2 separate regions of the Homo sapiens genome follow, and region 2 is linked to region 1. Evidence: fine-mapped expression QTL. Tissue or cell type: left ventricle. Region 1 holds a variant in brackets; the other region holds the start of a gene. All regions are shown on one strand. Distances are from middle to middle.

The links. PIP is the estimated chance that this variant, and not a neighbour inherited with it, causes the effect.
Region 2: SLC6A13 starts here. The variant in region 1 is the best candidate, but not a certain one, in a credible set for the expression of SLC6A13 in left ventricle (GTEx, PIP 0.53).

The regions. Positions count from the first base shown.
Region 1 is chr12:238,766-246,821 of GRCh38, reverse strand. It overlaps SLC6A13 (solute carrier family 6 member 13), which reads left to right. Exons shown (of 15, transcript NM_016615.5): 3 at 3,009-3,143; 4 at 4,068-4,208. Among named protein-coding and RNA genes, the nearest start is that of SLC6A13, 20 kb to the left of the region's middle. The variant C/T (reference allele first, on the strand shown) is at 4,521.
Region 2 is chr12:259,341-266,405 of GRCh38, reverse strand. SLC6A13 (solute carrier family 6 member 13) reads left to right here and starts at 3,570. Exons shown (of 15, transcript NM_016615.5): 1 at 3,570-3,617; 2 at 6,349-6,555. The coding sequence starts at 6,354.

The sequences.
Region 1 (8,056 bases):
TGGCTGGGCTGGTCTTGAACTCCTGACCTCAGGTGATCCACCTGCCTCGGCTTCCCAAAATGCGGGGATTACAGGCATGAACTACCATGCCCAGCAAAAATGTTCTTTTTTCTCTCTGTGTTTTATTTTAGATAGTTTCTATTATGGTTCAAGGTCACTGATCTTTTCTTCTGCTCTGCCTACTAACATTAATCCCATCCAATGTATTTCTTTAAATCTCACACACTGTAGTGTTCATGTTCAGAAGTTTTATTTGGGTCTTTTTCAATATCTTTTATATCCCTAACTTTTGGAACACTTGCAATACAGTTATAATAACTTTTAAATATTCTCATCTGCTAATTCTAACATCTTTGTAAATTATGGGTCAGGTTCAATCTCCTTGCTATGAGTAACATTTTCCTGATTCTTTGCTTTCCTGGTAATTTTCGATTGAATACCAGACCTGGTAATATTTTTGCTTTATGGGTTGCTGGATAATTTATTTATTTATTTATTTATTTTTGAGACAGAGTCTCACTCTGTTGCCAGGCTGGAGTGCAGTGGAGCGATCTCGGTTCACTGCAACCTCCATCTCCCGGGTTCAAGCAATTCTCCTGGTTCAGCCTCCCAAGTAGCTGGGACCACAGGCACATGCCACCATGCCCAGCTAATTTTTGTATTTTATTTATTTATTTATTTATTTATTTTTACTTTTATTTTTTGAGATGGAGTCTTGCTCTGTCACCCAGGCTGGATTGCAGTGGCACAATCTCGGCTCACTGCAACCTCCGCCTCCTGGGTTCACGCCATTCTCCTTCCTCAGCCTCCCAAGTAGCTGGGACTATAGGCACCCACCACCACACCCGGCTAATTTTTTTGTATTTTTAGTAGAGATGGGGTTTCACTGTGTTAGCCAGGATGGTCTCGATCTCCTGACCTCATGATCCACCTGCCTCAGCCTCCCAAAGTGCTGGGATTACAGGCTTGAGCCACCGCGCCCAGCTAATTTTTGTATTTTTACTAGAGATGGGGTTTCACCATGTTGGCCAGGATGGTCTCGATCTCTTGACCTCGTGATCTGCCTGCCTTGGCCTCCCAGAGTGCTGGGATTACAGGCGTAATCCACCACACCCTGCCTTTTCTTTCTTTCTTTTTTTTTTGCGACAGAGTCCCACTCTGTTGCCCAGGCTGGAGTGCAGTGGCACGATCTCGGCTCACTGCAACCTCTGCCTCCCAGGTTCAAGCAATTCTCCTGCCTCAGCCTCCCAAGTAGCTGGAGCTACAGGTGCGTGCCACCATGCCAGGCTAATTTTTGTATTTTTAGTAGAGACAGGATTTCACTATATTGGCCAGGCTGGTCTTGAACTCCTGACTTGGTGATCTGTCCACCTCAGCCTCCCGAAGTGCTGGGATTACAGACGTGAGCCACTGCACCCGGCCAATTTCGTATTTCTGTAAATATTCTTTAGCTCTGTTCTGGGATCAGTGAAGTTACTTGCTCTTTTTATATCTTGCTTTTAAGATTGGTTAGGTAGCAATAGAAGTGTGCTCGGTCTAGGGATAATTATTCCCCGTTACTGAGGAAATGCCCTTCTGCGTACTCTGCCTAATGCCTGGTGAATCTTGAGATTATTTACTCTGGCAGTGTGTGAGCACCATTACTTTTAATCATTTTGAATGGTTCTTTCCCTCACCTCAGTTTTCTCACACATATGCACTGACTAGTACTCAGTTGGAAGCTTGAGGGGGACCCTCTGCAGATTCTCCTGTCTGTGCAGTTCTGTCTTCTCTGGTACTCTGTGTCCTATGAACTGTGCTGTCCACTTTGCCAGCAGATGACAGGTCCATGGTAGGGAAAATACCAGTATATCTGGCATCAGTAGTCTTGTCTCCGCCAATGCTTATAAAAACAGAAGGAGACAGATTACTAGCTTAGTTCATTTTGTGTTGCTACAACAGAACACCTGAGATGGGTAATTTATAAGGAACAGATATTTATTTATTATAGTTTTGGAGGTTGGGAAGTCCAGGGCAAGCAGTCCACCTCTGGTGAGGGCCTTCTTCTTTGTGTCAGCCCATGGCAGAAGGCAGAAAGGCAAGAGAATATTCATATAAAAGACAGAGAGCCAAATACACTTTTTTTTTTTGGACAGGGTCTTGCTCTGTCACCCAGGTTGGAGGGAGGGCAGTGGCACAATCACAGCTCACTGCAGCCTCGAACTCCCAGGTTTAATCAATCCTCCCACCTCAGCCTCCCGAGTAGCTAGGATTACAGGCACACACAGCCATGCCCAGATAATTTTTTGTATTTCTTTTAGAGACAGAGTTTTCCCATGTTGCCCAGGCTGGTCTTGAAGTCCTGGGCTCAAGCGATCCTCCCACCTCAGCCTCCCAAAGTGCTGGGATTACAGGCGTGAGCCACTGTGCCTGGCCCAAACTCACTTTTATAACAAACACAGTCTCACAGTAATAACATTAATCCATTCATGAGGGCAGAGCCCTCATGACTTACATCTTATTAGGCTCCACGTCCCAACACTGTTGCATAGGGAATTAAGTTTCCAACCACGAACTTTAGGGGATACATTCAAACCATAACAATGACTGAAAGGGCATCTGATTTCAGCTTACTAAAAGACTACCTGACGTTAAGAGCAATGCTTTCTTTGAAAAGAATTATAGACTGTGGGCTGTGCCAATGCTCCTAGACATCCATTATTTAATAAGCTCCTTGTTATTGCCACAAGTTATGTGTTAAGCAGTAATTGTTCAGTGGGGAACAAACTTTAATAGGTATAGACTGAAACTGCAGTGAAAAAAGGCAAGAGGCTGTGTAGATCTTAGATAATGGGGTGACTCTTGATCTCTGCTATGTTCCAAACATCTAGACAGCTGTCTCCTGCAGTTTTGCATGTTCTCTGCCTCCGAGATTCTGACTGGCAGTATGGGTTGGTAATGGGAGGAGGTGAATGCAGACCATGAGGAGAATAGTCCCAGGAAATGAACAGCCTGTTTTCTAACCACAGGTGCCTTCTTCATCCCCTACCTCGTCTTCCTCTTTACCTGTGGCATTCCTGTCTTCCTTCTGGAGACAGCACTAGGCCAGTACACTAGCCAGGGAGGCGTCACAGCCTGGAGGAAGATCTGCCCCATCTTTGAGGGTGAGTAGCTCTGTACCTGACTCCAAAGCGTCTTCATTCGTGGTTATAAACCTTGTTTGGAATGACTTGAGTGATTAGTAGCAGTTCTGAGGTTAAGATAAGATCCCGAGTCTCTATGCTAAACCCTTGGTTTGTGGGCTGCATACTGAGCTAGTCAGCTGATCTATCAGAGAATGGGCAAGAAACAGCAGTGAGGATGGGGCAGAGGCTTTAGGTTAGGTAAGTAGAGTGCAAAGCCACTTTAGCCATATGTTTTAAACACATAACAATGTTGTTGTATTTTAAGACATATTTAAATCAATTATAAACATTTTAAAAGAGAACTTTAAATGAGAAAAAATTATTTCATTCATAGTTCTATCTTGGCCGGGCGTGGTGGCCCATGCCTGTAATCCCAGCACTTTGGGAGGCCGAGGCAGGTGGATCACCTGAGGTCAGGAGTTCGAGACCAGCCTGGCCAACATGGTGAAACTAAAATACAAAATACAAAAAATACAAAAAATTAGCCAGGCATGGTGGTGGGCACCGGTAATCCTAGCTACTCAGGAGGCTGAGGCAGGAGAATCTCTTGAACCTGGGAGGCAGAGGTTGCAGCGAGCCGAGATTGCACCACTGCACTCCAGCCTGGGTGACAAGAGCAAAACTCCATCTCAAAAAAAAAAAAAAGTTCTATCTTGACACAAGTATTTAAAATTTACAGTATTTAATTTCATTATTTCTCCATATATAGGATTTTCTTTACGTTTTTATTTTGAAATAATTATAGATCCACAGGGAGTTACAAAAATAGCAGTTTCCCTCAATGGTAAATTGAACTCCCAGCCTCAGACAATCCTCTCACCTCAGCGTCCCGCATAGCTGAAATGACAGGTGCACGCCACCGCTGTCCACCGTTCCTAGCCCAATTCTGCAGTTTCCCCGCAGGCATTGGCTATGCCTCCCAGATGATCGTCATCCTCCTCAACGTCTACTACATCATTGTGTTGGCCTGGGCCCTGTTCTACCTCTTCAGCAGCTTCACCATCGACCTGCCCTGGGGCGGCTGCTACCATGAGTGGAACACAGGTATGGTCCTCACCCAAGGGTCCACTTCCTCCTCTCGTTCTGCCACATTAACCGGAATTGGGCTTGTCACTATATCCCCGCTTAACACGGACACACCAGAAATCACCCAAGTCGACCATGGAGAGCTTATGTCAAGAATAAGATCAAGAATTCACCAGCGTCACAGGCAAATGTCAGGAACTTTTTAAAGAAAAAATTAACATATTCAATGAGAACTGACCACTTTTATGTTGTTTAGCCATTTGCTTAAATCAATTTGAAATATGGTTAGTTTGATATATGGATATATGTTTTGTTCATTCATTTGTTTCG[C/T]GTATCTTCTCTCTGGTACGTTTTAGGTCTTTCAAACTTGCAATTCATCTGGACTTGCTTGTCAGGGGTGGCAGAGGCGGGAGAAAATCCACGTATAAGTGGACCCGCACAGTTCAGATCCATGTTGCTCAAGGGTCCACTGTGGTTTATAATAGCAGTTACAGTCACGTGTCGCTTAATGACAAGGGTACACTCTGAGAAACGCGTTGTTGGCAATTTCGTCCTTGGATGAACACAGCACAGAGTGCACACCCACATGGCCCAGCCCATCGCACACCTGGGCCGTCTGCTATAATACTGTGCCGAACACTGTAGGCACTTGCAGCACGATGGTAAGTATTTGTGTATCTAAACATAGTGCAACATAGGAAAGGTACAGTAAAGATGCCGTATTTTATAATCAAATGTGAACACTGCCATACAGGTGATCCACTGTTGGCTGAAGCGTTGCTATGTGCTGCATATCTGCAATTTCTCCTGTGCTTATACGACTACCTGAGCCACCCATGGCAATAGAAATACTGAGTCTAATGTATAAAAAGTAACAACAACAAAAATATCTAGGGCAATGCTGTCCAAAAGAACTGTCTGTAATGATGAAAATGTTCTTTGCACTATCCAATATGGTAGTTCTTAATACCAGCTACATGTGGTTATTTATTTATTTACCTTTCACGGGCAGTCCCACTGAACCAGTGTAGGTTTGGAGTGACTCCTATGTGTGGTTATTGAGCACCTGAAATGTGGCAAGTGGTCTGAGGAACAGAACTTTAACATTTGCATTGAATGTTAACTTAAACAGCCACAGGTGGCTCGTGGCTGCCCTGTCGGACGGCATGGCTGGAGAGCACGGTGGACGCTGTTCTGCTTGGATTCTTGGCACATCCCTCTCTCCTTGTCCAAGTATCTTCCAGCACCAGTCAACAAGGCCCTAGCCCTTTGAAGTGGGCTAGCCATGATTAATTCTTTCTTTTTTATCTTTTTTATTTTTATTTTTTTGAGATGGAGTCTCGCTCGGTCGCCCAGGCTGGAGTGCAGTGGCGCGATCTTGGCTCACTGCAACCTCCACCCCACAGGTTCAAGCAATTCTCTGCTTCAGCCTCCCAAGTAGATGGGATTACAGGCGCCTGCCAACACGCCCGGCTAATTTTTGTATTTTTAGTAGAGACAGGGTTTCACCATTTTGGCCAGGCTGGTCTTGAACTCCTGACCTTGTGATCCACCTGCCTCGGCCTCCCAAAGCGCTGGGATTACAGGCGTGAGCCACTGTGCCCAGCCCAATTCTTTCTTGCTCAGATAAGTTAATTCTGAACTGGAGTTTGAATCCTTTACTTGCCCGGAAAAGCATTTTTGCACGGTTAGGATGATATTCTTCATCCCTTCATGACCTGACTCCTGTCTGTGTCACCACCTCACCTTTACCTCTCTCACCTTGTACTTGATGCTCCCCTTCCAGGCACGTCTTTGTGCATCACTGCCACCACCTCCATTCCACCGTTATTTTTCAAAGGGAAAGTAAACCTTGGGGGTACCTCCTCCGACACCCCAGGATGGCATTAGGTTCTTGTTAAATGTGTCTGGTAGCACCTGCACCGGCCCCGGCCCTGCTCCTGCACTTCCCTCACTTTTCATCTGTTTGTTGATTTGGTTTTCCCACTAGTCATCAAGATCGTGAGGGCAGAAAAGGTGTCTTTATCTCCACAGCTTCTGTGCCTAGCACAGTGCTGGCTCTATCGTAAGCACTCAAAAATATTGATCGAATGAATCAAGGTTTAAAGATCTGTTTTATTATAATTAGTCTGGGGGCGGTGGCTCACGCCTGTAATCCTAGCACTTTGGGAGGCCGAAGCCAGTGGATCGCCTCAGCTCAGGAGTTTGAGACCAACCTGGGCAAGACGATGAAACCCCATCTCTACTGAAAATACAAAAAATTTGCCAGGGGTGGTGGTGCACACCCATGGCCCTAGCTACTTGGGAGGTTGAGACAGGAGGATTGCTTGAGCCTGGGAGGTGGAGGTTGCAGTGAGCCGAGATTGTGCCACTGCACTCCAGCCTGGGTAATAGAGAAAGACTTGGTCTCCAAAAAAAATCTGTTTTATTATACTTCTTTAGCTTTATATATATTTTCTTTTCTTCCTTTTTATTTTTTTAAATATCTATGTGTACTGAGACCACCCTTGACAACCAGCCTGTCAGACAGTAAAGATTTTATCCAGATCTCAGTGGAGTCCCTCTTGAAACAATTTTGTCAATTTTTGGTGGCCTAGAGCTTTTGCTTCAGGGCTTCATTAGGCCCACCTTCCTTTGGATTGCCTGGGGGTCTCTGGGACAATTCTGAGGCACATTAAATACCTGAGTATTATTTTTTGACATTGTTGACATCTCTCTTAGTGAGCCTGGTTTTACTCAGAGCCTAGCATTTGAATAGCACGAGACACGCTGTCCCGCCAAGATGAAATAATGCTTTTCTGGGTGCACTGCAGCGTCCAGGAAAGTGAATGGTTTAGTGGAGAGAGCACCTAGCTGGCCTTCAGTCACCCAGCAGATACTTGTTGAGCTCCTGCTATATGCCAGGCTCTGTTCTGAGCACCAGAAATATGGTAATAAACAAAAACAAAGACCCCACCCTCCTGGGGCTTTCATTGTAGCGATGGGAGGTAGACATAAACAAAACAAGTGAATAAGAAGTGTCTGCTTAGAAAGCAGCAGCACATGTCGTGTTAGAAGATGGGCTATGGAGGAAAATAAAACAGAGACTGTGAGTTTCATGGGTGGGATTGCAATTTTAAGTGGCATGGTCAGGAAAGGCCTTACTGAGATGCCCCTTCAGCATTGGTCTGAAGGAGGAGGGGGAACGAGTCATTGAGCTGGGGGACAAGAACTCTAGGAAGAAGGAACTGAGGAGGCACGGCATCTAACACACCCCACGTGTGCAGGGAACCGGGTGGACGTGGTAGAGCCGGTGGCTGAGGGGAATGGTGTGGGAATGGATCCAACACACCCCACGTGTGCAGGGAACAGGGTGGACGTGGTAGAGCCGGTGGCTGAAGGGAATGGTGTGGGAATGGATCCAACACAACCCATGTGTGCAGGGAACAGGGTGGACGTGGTAGAGCACGTGGCTGAAGGGGCAGGGAACAGGGTGGACGTGGTAGAGCATGTGGCTGAGGGAAATGGTGTGGGAATGGATCCAACACACCCCACGTGTGCAGGGAACAGGGTGGACGTGGTAGAGCAGGTGGCTGAGGGGAATGGTGTGGAATGCATCCAATATGGCCTTGAAGGCAACTAAAGGGGCTGCAGCTTTTTTCTTTGAGTGGGACGGGAAACCCACGGGAGGCCTTTACCTGGGGTGTGACATAGAGTGATCTAAGGTTTAACAAAATGGAGATTCCACGAGGGGAACAAGGGTGAAAACCGAAGGCCAGGTAGGAGCCGGGAGCTGATGCTGCCACCCTGTACCGGGTGGTGGTAGAGGTGACAGAAGGATCAGTCTGGATATTTTGAAGGTGGAACCCAGACAATTTGCTGACCTG
Region 2 (7,065 bases), 20 kb before region 1:
AATTGTTAGAACGAGGAAATTAACATTGGTAGAGAACTATTAAACTAAAGACCTTATGCAACTTTCACCAGTTTTTACATTCATGTCCTTTTCTATTCCAGGATCCTATCTAGGATCCCATTCAGGACCCCACATTGCATTTAGTTGTGATTTTCCCTTAGTCTCCTGCAGCCTAAAACACTTGCTCAGTCTTTGTTGTCTTGTCTGTCTTGTCTTTCATGACACTTTTGAAGAGTAGTGATCGGTAATTTTGTCAAATGCCCCTCACTTTGGGTTCGTCTTATGTTTCTTGTGATTGAACCGCATGTTTGGCAAGAATACCACAGAAATGTTGTGTCACTCTTAGTACATCATATCCATGGTTCATGATATAGAGAGATATTGATGTCTTATTACTATCTTATTACTGGTGATGTTGACCTTGGTCATTTGGTTAAGGTGGTTTCTGCCTGGCTTCTCTACTTCAAAATCACTATTTTTCCCTTTGTAGTTAATAAATATCTTGGGGGAGACACTTTGGAATTGTAAAAATTCTGTTCCTCCTGGAACTTTCACCCACTAGTTTTAGCATTCATTGGTAGATCTTGTCTGCAACAATTATTATAGTGGTGTTTGTCTAATGGTGATTTTCTGTTTTTCTCTTTCCTTCTACATTTATTAAGACTTCTTTTTCTTTGAGATGGGGTCTTGCTGTGTTGCCTCAAACTCCTGAGCTTAAGTAATCCTCCCACCTCAGCCTCCCTGAGTAACTGAGATTACAGGTGCATGCCACCATGCTCGGCATCCTTCTATATGTATTAATTGGAATTCAACTGTAAGGAAGACTAGTCCTTTTATCCCACTTATTAACTTGTTGGTTATTTGTATCAGCATGAACTTATTAGTGAACTTTGTTCTTTGGGCTACAATCCAATACTATCATTATTCATTTTGTTGTTCAAATTATTTCAGTTATAGCAAAAGCCATAATTTGTTGTTTAGTCTGTTCTACTTGCTCTTTTCTTTTCTTTCAGTGTGATGTTTGAAAAGGGATCCAAAAAGTCAACAGGTTTCTGACTCCTGTGGTTAAACAGAACTATATCTCTTAATTTAAAGGTCTCCAGAGGAGAACCCACCACTTCCTTTGCCACCTTGATGTTGCTCAGAAATGTTCTTTCTTGAAACAAATCGTGCTGCTTTTAAAATTTGTTTCTGTGAAATGTCAAACTAGAAAAAAATTTTATTTGTTCTTATTCCACTCCTAGTAGAGTCAAACAATTTTTGGGAGAGCGTATCATGGCGTACTGTCATTTAAACATACCTGGGATCAACTTGGTACAAACCAGGACTCCTAGGCCTGCTTTTTGCGTGGTTCACTTTGTTTTATACAATCCTGTTGTTGGAAGCACAGCCTTCAATTATCCTCACTGACAATCTCTAGTGAGTCTTAAAACTTATGCAGCCTCTTGAGTAAGAACTGTTGAATACGGATTCTGTTGTTACCTGTTTTCAGGTTTCTTGACTTTGCACCCAGCAGACCAAAGGATGATGGCAACGTGAGGTAGATGCAAGGCTAGTCATGCCTGTTTTGTGTGGAACCCCAGACGGGAAGTTGTGAGGGACTGTCGCCAACATTTATCTACCAGTGGTTCTCAAGCTTTTTTTTTTTTTCTTTAACTTTTGTCAACCTAAGCAGGACAAAAAACCTACCATAGCCATTCCCACTTTATAGAGGAAAAAGAAATTGGGGATAACAAAGATTTGGAGAGGAATAAAATAGGAGTCAACATGGTAACATGGCAGCAGTTATGTAAAAACAAAAGAGTTGGTAAGTAAAGCCAACATTCCTTCATACAACAGCAGCAGCTCACAACCAACTCAGGATAAGCCTGATGATGTCCTTATCACTGACAGTCTTTCCTGGAAGCTGGAAATTGCAACCGTTTGCATATGTGAGGACACAGAAGGGGCTGTGCAACATTGCCAAAGGCTGAATGGTATCTGAGAAAACACCCGTTATCTGGTAATTTTAGATTACAAATGCCAAAGTTTATAATGCATAGTAGGCCATTAGTAAGTACCACTCAGTGATACGTAAAAATGGAAGTCAATAGCACTGCTTTGAAGATGGTCTTTTTTTTACATGAGTTTGTAGGCTGTCTCAGGACGCTTTTGGTTTATTGCTTTACAGAGCTCAGTCTAACAGATGAAAGCTTGAAAGGGGAGAGGAACAGGGGCCGCTGAAACATAAGAATAATAATTTCCAAGAAGCTTCTGGGAAGCTCTCCAGGTATTACCATGCAGTGTTTCCATGCCCCTACCCCATGCCCTTGAGTTAGATGAGGGATCAAGGAAACGGAAACTACCTTAGACTCTTCGATCCGTCTTTCTTTCCACACTTCTCCGTCATCTCAAGATGTCTCTATCACCTCACTCACTCATTGCCGCATCCCCTACCTAACTCATTCTCACAGTCTGGCCAGAGCCCAGCTTAGCTCAGGGGTCTCTCAGTCCCGTCTCCTTCAAGAAGACTTCCGGGCTCACTGCTCACTGTGAATAATCCCTTAAGGATGAATAACAGCTGCCATTTACAGTTAGTCATCATCTCCTGAAATCTCAAGCTAGACAGTGGCATACGTAGGACTCAGACCCCACACTCTCTGGTGTCAAAGTCTGAGCAGGTTTCCACTACATGTACTGTGCTTCAGCACATGGCTGAGGTGGGACTCTGCCCTGTCCTAGACTCCAGGCTGAATGAACTACTCTCACAGCCGCCTCTGTGGGCTGTTCCTGCAGAGAAACGAAGCTCCCTGGATGACCTCGGCCTCGCGCTCACCGCCTGCTCCTTCCCTTATAACAGCTTTAGGGCTTTGCTTTATTTTAAACGTTGGCACTTCCTTTTCTCTATTGATTTAAAAAATATTTTAAAATTCTAGCATATTAAAAAATCTAAACAATATTGAAAAAGTGGGGAAAAAATCTCCCTTACTGCCATCTCCTGATCTCAGTTCCACTCTACAAATGTAACTACTATTAATCATTTAGCGAAGATTTTTTCAGACTTTTTCTATATGTGTATAAATGTCTGTGTATGTTTGGGAAGTTTTTCTGACATCTCAGAGTTCTGTATCTATGTATCTTTGTTCTAAATCATCGTCCATTCCACATTGCAAGCTGCGAAACGGTAAGATAAATGTATTTTTAAATTAATCTACACAGCACCTGACCAAAGGAATACCTATTCTTGATGGATTTATAGGAGCACTTGTGTTGGAGACAGGGGTGGGAGGCAGGATCCCTCCAGAGAGACCCTGAGCTCACCAGGTGGGAAGCGCACATGAGCTCCGGGGAGGAGACCACACTTCATAAGCTCACCAGCAACTGGCCCGACCTGCCAGGGCGTGCACACTCCCCAGACTGCGAAATCACTCATGTGTGGGTTGTCCAGTGGCCGAGGGGAGGGGAGGGGAGAAAAGGGGAGGGGGAGGCACAAGGGTGGAATGTGGGCTGGGCCAAGTTTAGAATTTCAAGTGCCACAGAGGCGTTCTGGAACCACACTTTAAATAGCCAGCACCTTCTCCTTCCCCCTTAGATAATTCTTCTCCCCTGACTGGACCTCTGGCAGCAGCTTCACTAAGGTTCGAAATGTTTTCTTCTCTTTTTTTTCTATTTCTGCGTCTCAGACTGCAGGTTGGTGGGATCCATGGGACTTACAACCAAAGGACTTTTTTCTTACCCTCGCCTAGAAAGTACGCTTCTGACATGTATGTGTGCAAATGCAAAGATTATGTGCTATTTTCTTGACTTTCTGAAACTTGGGTGGCTGTTGACTTAAGTGACACTGTGATTTGGAAAGAGAGAGCCCTAGATTGAGAGGAAAGACAACTGGATTTAACTCCAAGAAAACAAAGTCTTTCTTCTCTGAGAAAAGAGAACAATGATCAACTCTGACAGGACTGAAAGAAAACAAAAATTTGAGTACCTGTTATTCTATTAAGTGTGTATACATATGTATATTTCCTCATTTAATTCTTATAGCTAAGTATATCCTATCTATCATCCCCACTTTTACAGATGAACAAACTAAGGCTCAGAGTCATTCATTAACTTCTCTGAAGTCAGACATTGGTATGAGAAAAAACTAATGTTTGAACCTGGCCTCATCTGACTCTACAGCTCATGACCTTTCAGACACAACATGCTACCTCTGAGAAGCAGCTCTAATGAGGCTAAGGGAGCCAGGAGAAGGCTACTGTTTCTCCTAGGGTCTGGGAGGGTGGAGAAGGGAAGGCTTTCCATCACTGGGAGAGATCCATCAGCTGGTAAAGGGAGGGGAGGCCAGCACAGTCAGTACCTTAGACAACCTTCCCAAAAGGACTGAGGAGCCCTCTTGGGACCAGTTACTTGAGTTTCTCCTTTGTAGAAAGGAGCTCATTCCCTAATTTATCAGATAAACATAGATGCCTGCTGTTCCCTGACTTTTTTTTTTTTTCTTTTTTTTGAGACAGAGTCTCGCTTTGTTGCCCAGACTGGAGTGCAGTGGCGCGATCTCGGCTCACTGCAACCTCTGCCTCCTGGTTTCAAGCGATTCTCCTGCCTCAGCCTCCTGAGTAGCTGGGATTACAGGTGCCTGCCACCATGCCCAGCTAATTTTTGTACTTTTCGTAGAGACGGGGTGTCACCATGTTGGCCAGGCTGGTCTCAAACTCCTGACCTCAGGAGATCCACCCGCCTCGGCCTCCCAAGTGCTGGGATTACAGGCGTGAGCCATTGCACCCGGCCTGTTCACTGACTTTCTAATTTTCTGGGTCAGAGCCAAAGTAGAGTCTGTGGCCAGAAGAGGTTACTGCTGAGAAAGTTCTGTTAACATGAACTTTGCTTGAGGCTTAGAAAAAAGTCCATCTGCCTCCTTCTCCAGAAAAGAGGCCACTCTGCAAAATCAAGGCAGAGTCATTAGAAGATGCTTTTAGTAGACACACCAGTGAACCTAGGCAGCCAATGTAATCAAAGGGATGGAACTGAAAGAGCAGGGGCAGAGTGGGTTTAAGTCCTGGCTGTGCAAGTTAGTAGCTATATGGCAGCAGCAGTCACATTATTTAACCTCTCTGAGCTGCAACTTCCTTATTTATAAAGTGGAGGTAATAATGCTTACATCTCAGGGTTGTTGTGAGAATTAAATGAAAAGAATGTATGTGAAGTGCCTAGTCTATAGTAGTTGCTAACTAAATGTGGGCCACGTCCAGTCATCCTCAATCCCAACAGTGGTCTGGAATGGGCCATTTCTGACAGTGAATGGTTAAAACTGTGGCTTTTTATTTATATCATCTTCTCTACTGTCACAGACTCCTAATTTGTCATCACCAAAAAAGAAAAAGAGCGCATAGTAAATCTCTGCCTTACGCTGATTTCAGAGAGACATAGAAGGAGTACTTAGACCACCTCATCTTACTCACAATTCCTGGTCCCACTCAACCTCTCCCAATCCTTTGACAGGATTTTTTTTTAAAACCGGCTTTTATTTTTATATTACAAAAGTAAAACACATTTTTGATGTAATTGTAGAAAATATAGATAAGGAAATGTTCCTATAACCCAACTGCTGAAAGAAAAACATTTTCATGGCTATCCTACTCCTTCAATGCCTATAAATACTTTATAAAATATTTGTCAAGCATGATCATATTGTATGTACTGTTTTTTACTATATATTGTGAGCACCCTTTTGTGCCGATATACTTGTTTCTATAACACAGGTTTTAATGATTATATATAGTAGTCCATTATATGAATGTGCCATAATTTATCAACATATCTACCATTTTTGACAATTTATGTACTTTCCGATTTTTCGCTGTTATGAACAATAAATATCCTAATGCTACACCTTTCACTCACAATCACAATTATTTCCTTAGCATAAATTCCTGCAAGGGAAATTGGTGGCTTTGAGGACATGTAAAATCCCATCCTTTCAACGTGTCCCAGCATACAGAGTAAACAGACTGAAGCACATGCTAATCCCGACGAGGCTGACTGTAGGGTGGCAGGGAGAATTTAGACAGCACAGCGGCCCATGAACTCCTCCATGTCTGCAATCCTCAACCCAAGAGGGCCTTATAGTGGAAGCAAAGGCTGTCTGTCAGTACCAACACTTTCTTCCTGAAACAGGAAAGGAATATATGTTTTCAGTAGCTGTCACCCAGCTTCTACCAATGAGAACTGCTAAGGAGGACATGGTCTACAGGGAAGGGAATAGAAATTCACCTCTTCCAGTGCATTCATTCCCTTATGGATTTGTTGGTAAAAGCAGGAGGAGGGGTTTCCTTCTGGGGTTCCCAACAGTAACAGAGCATCCCACTTGTTTTCCAGGTGGGATGGATAGCAGGGTCTCAGGCACAACCAGTAATGGAGAGACAAAACCAGTGTATCCAGTCATGGAAAAGAAGGAGGAAGATGGCACCCTGGAGCGGGGGCACTGGAACAACAAGATGGAGTTTGTGCTGTCAGTGGCTGGGGAGATCATTGGCTTAGGCAACGTCTGGAGGTTTCCCTATCTCTGCTACAAAAATGGGGGAGGTGAGATGAGAGCCCTTGTGCCACCCCACCCACTCCTGGAAGGAGGATACTTCCATCTCCTGCACTTACGGCCCCTCTGGGGAGTCCCATAGATGTATAGAATTCTGGAGGTAGGAGGACGCTTAGAGGTCATTAAGGACACTCTGTAAGAGACTAAGACCTAGAAAGGTTACGTGACTATCCCAGGGCTCTTTCTATTATAACGTGGCATCGTAGAAATATGAGCACAAGCTGGAACCAGGTGGATGAGAGTTTGGATTCTGGCTCTGCTACTTAACACTCTGTGTGATCTTGGACAAGTTACTTAAGCTCTCAGAGCATCAATTGCCGCTCCTGCAAATTGAGATAATAATGCCTGCCTTTCAAGGTCATTGTAAGGATTAGAGACAATGTGTGTAAAGCACTTAATAAATAGTAGCTCTGCTGATGATGACGTTGATAACCAAACTGTTCTGTGGTCTTAAGTAATAAATAGTAGCTCTGCTGATGATGACGTTGATAACCAAACTG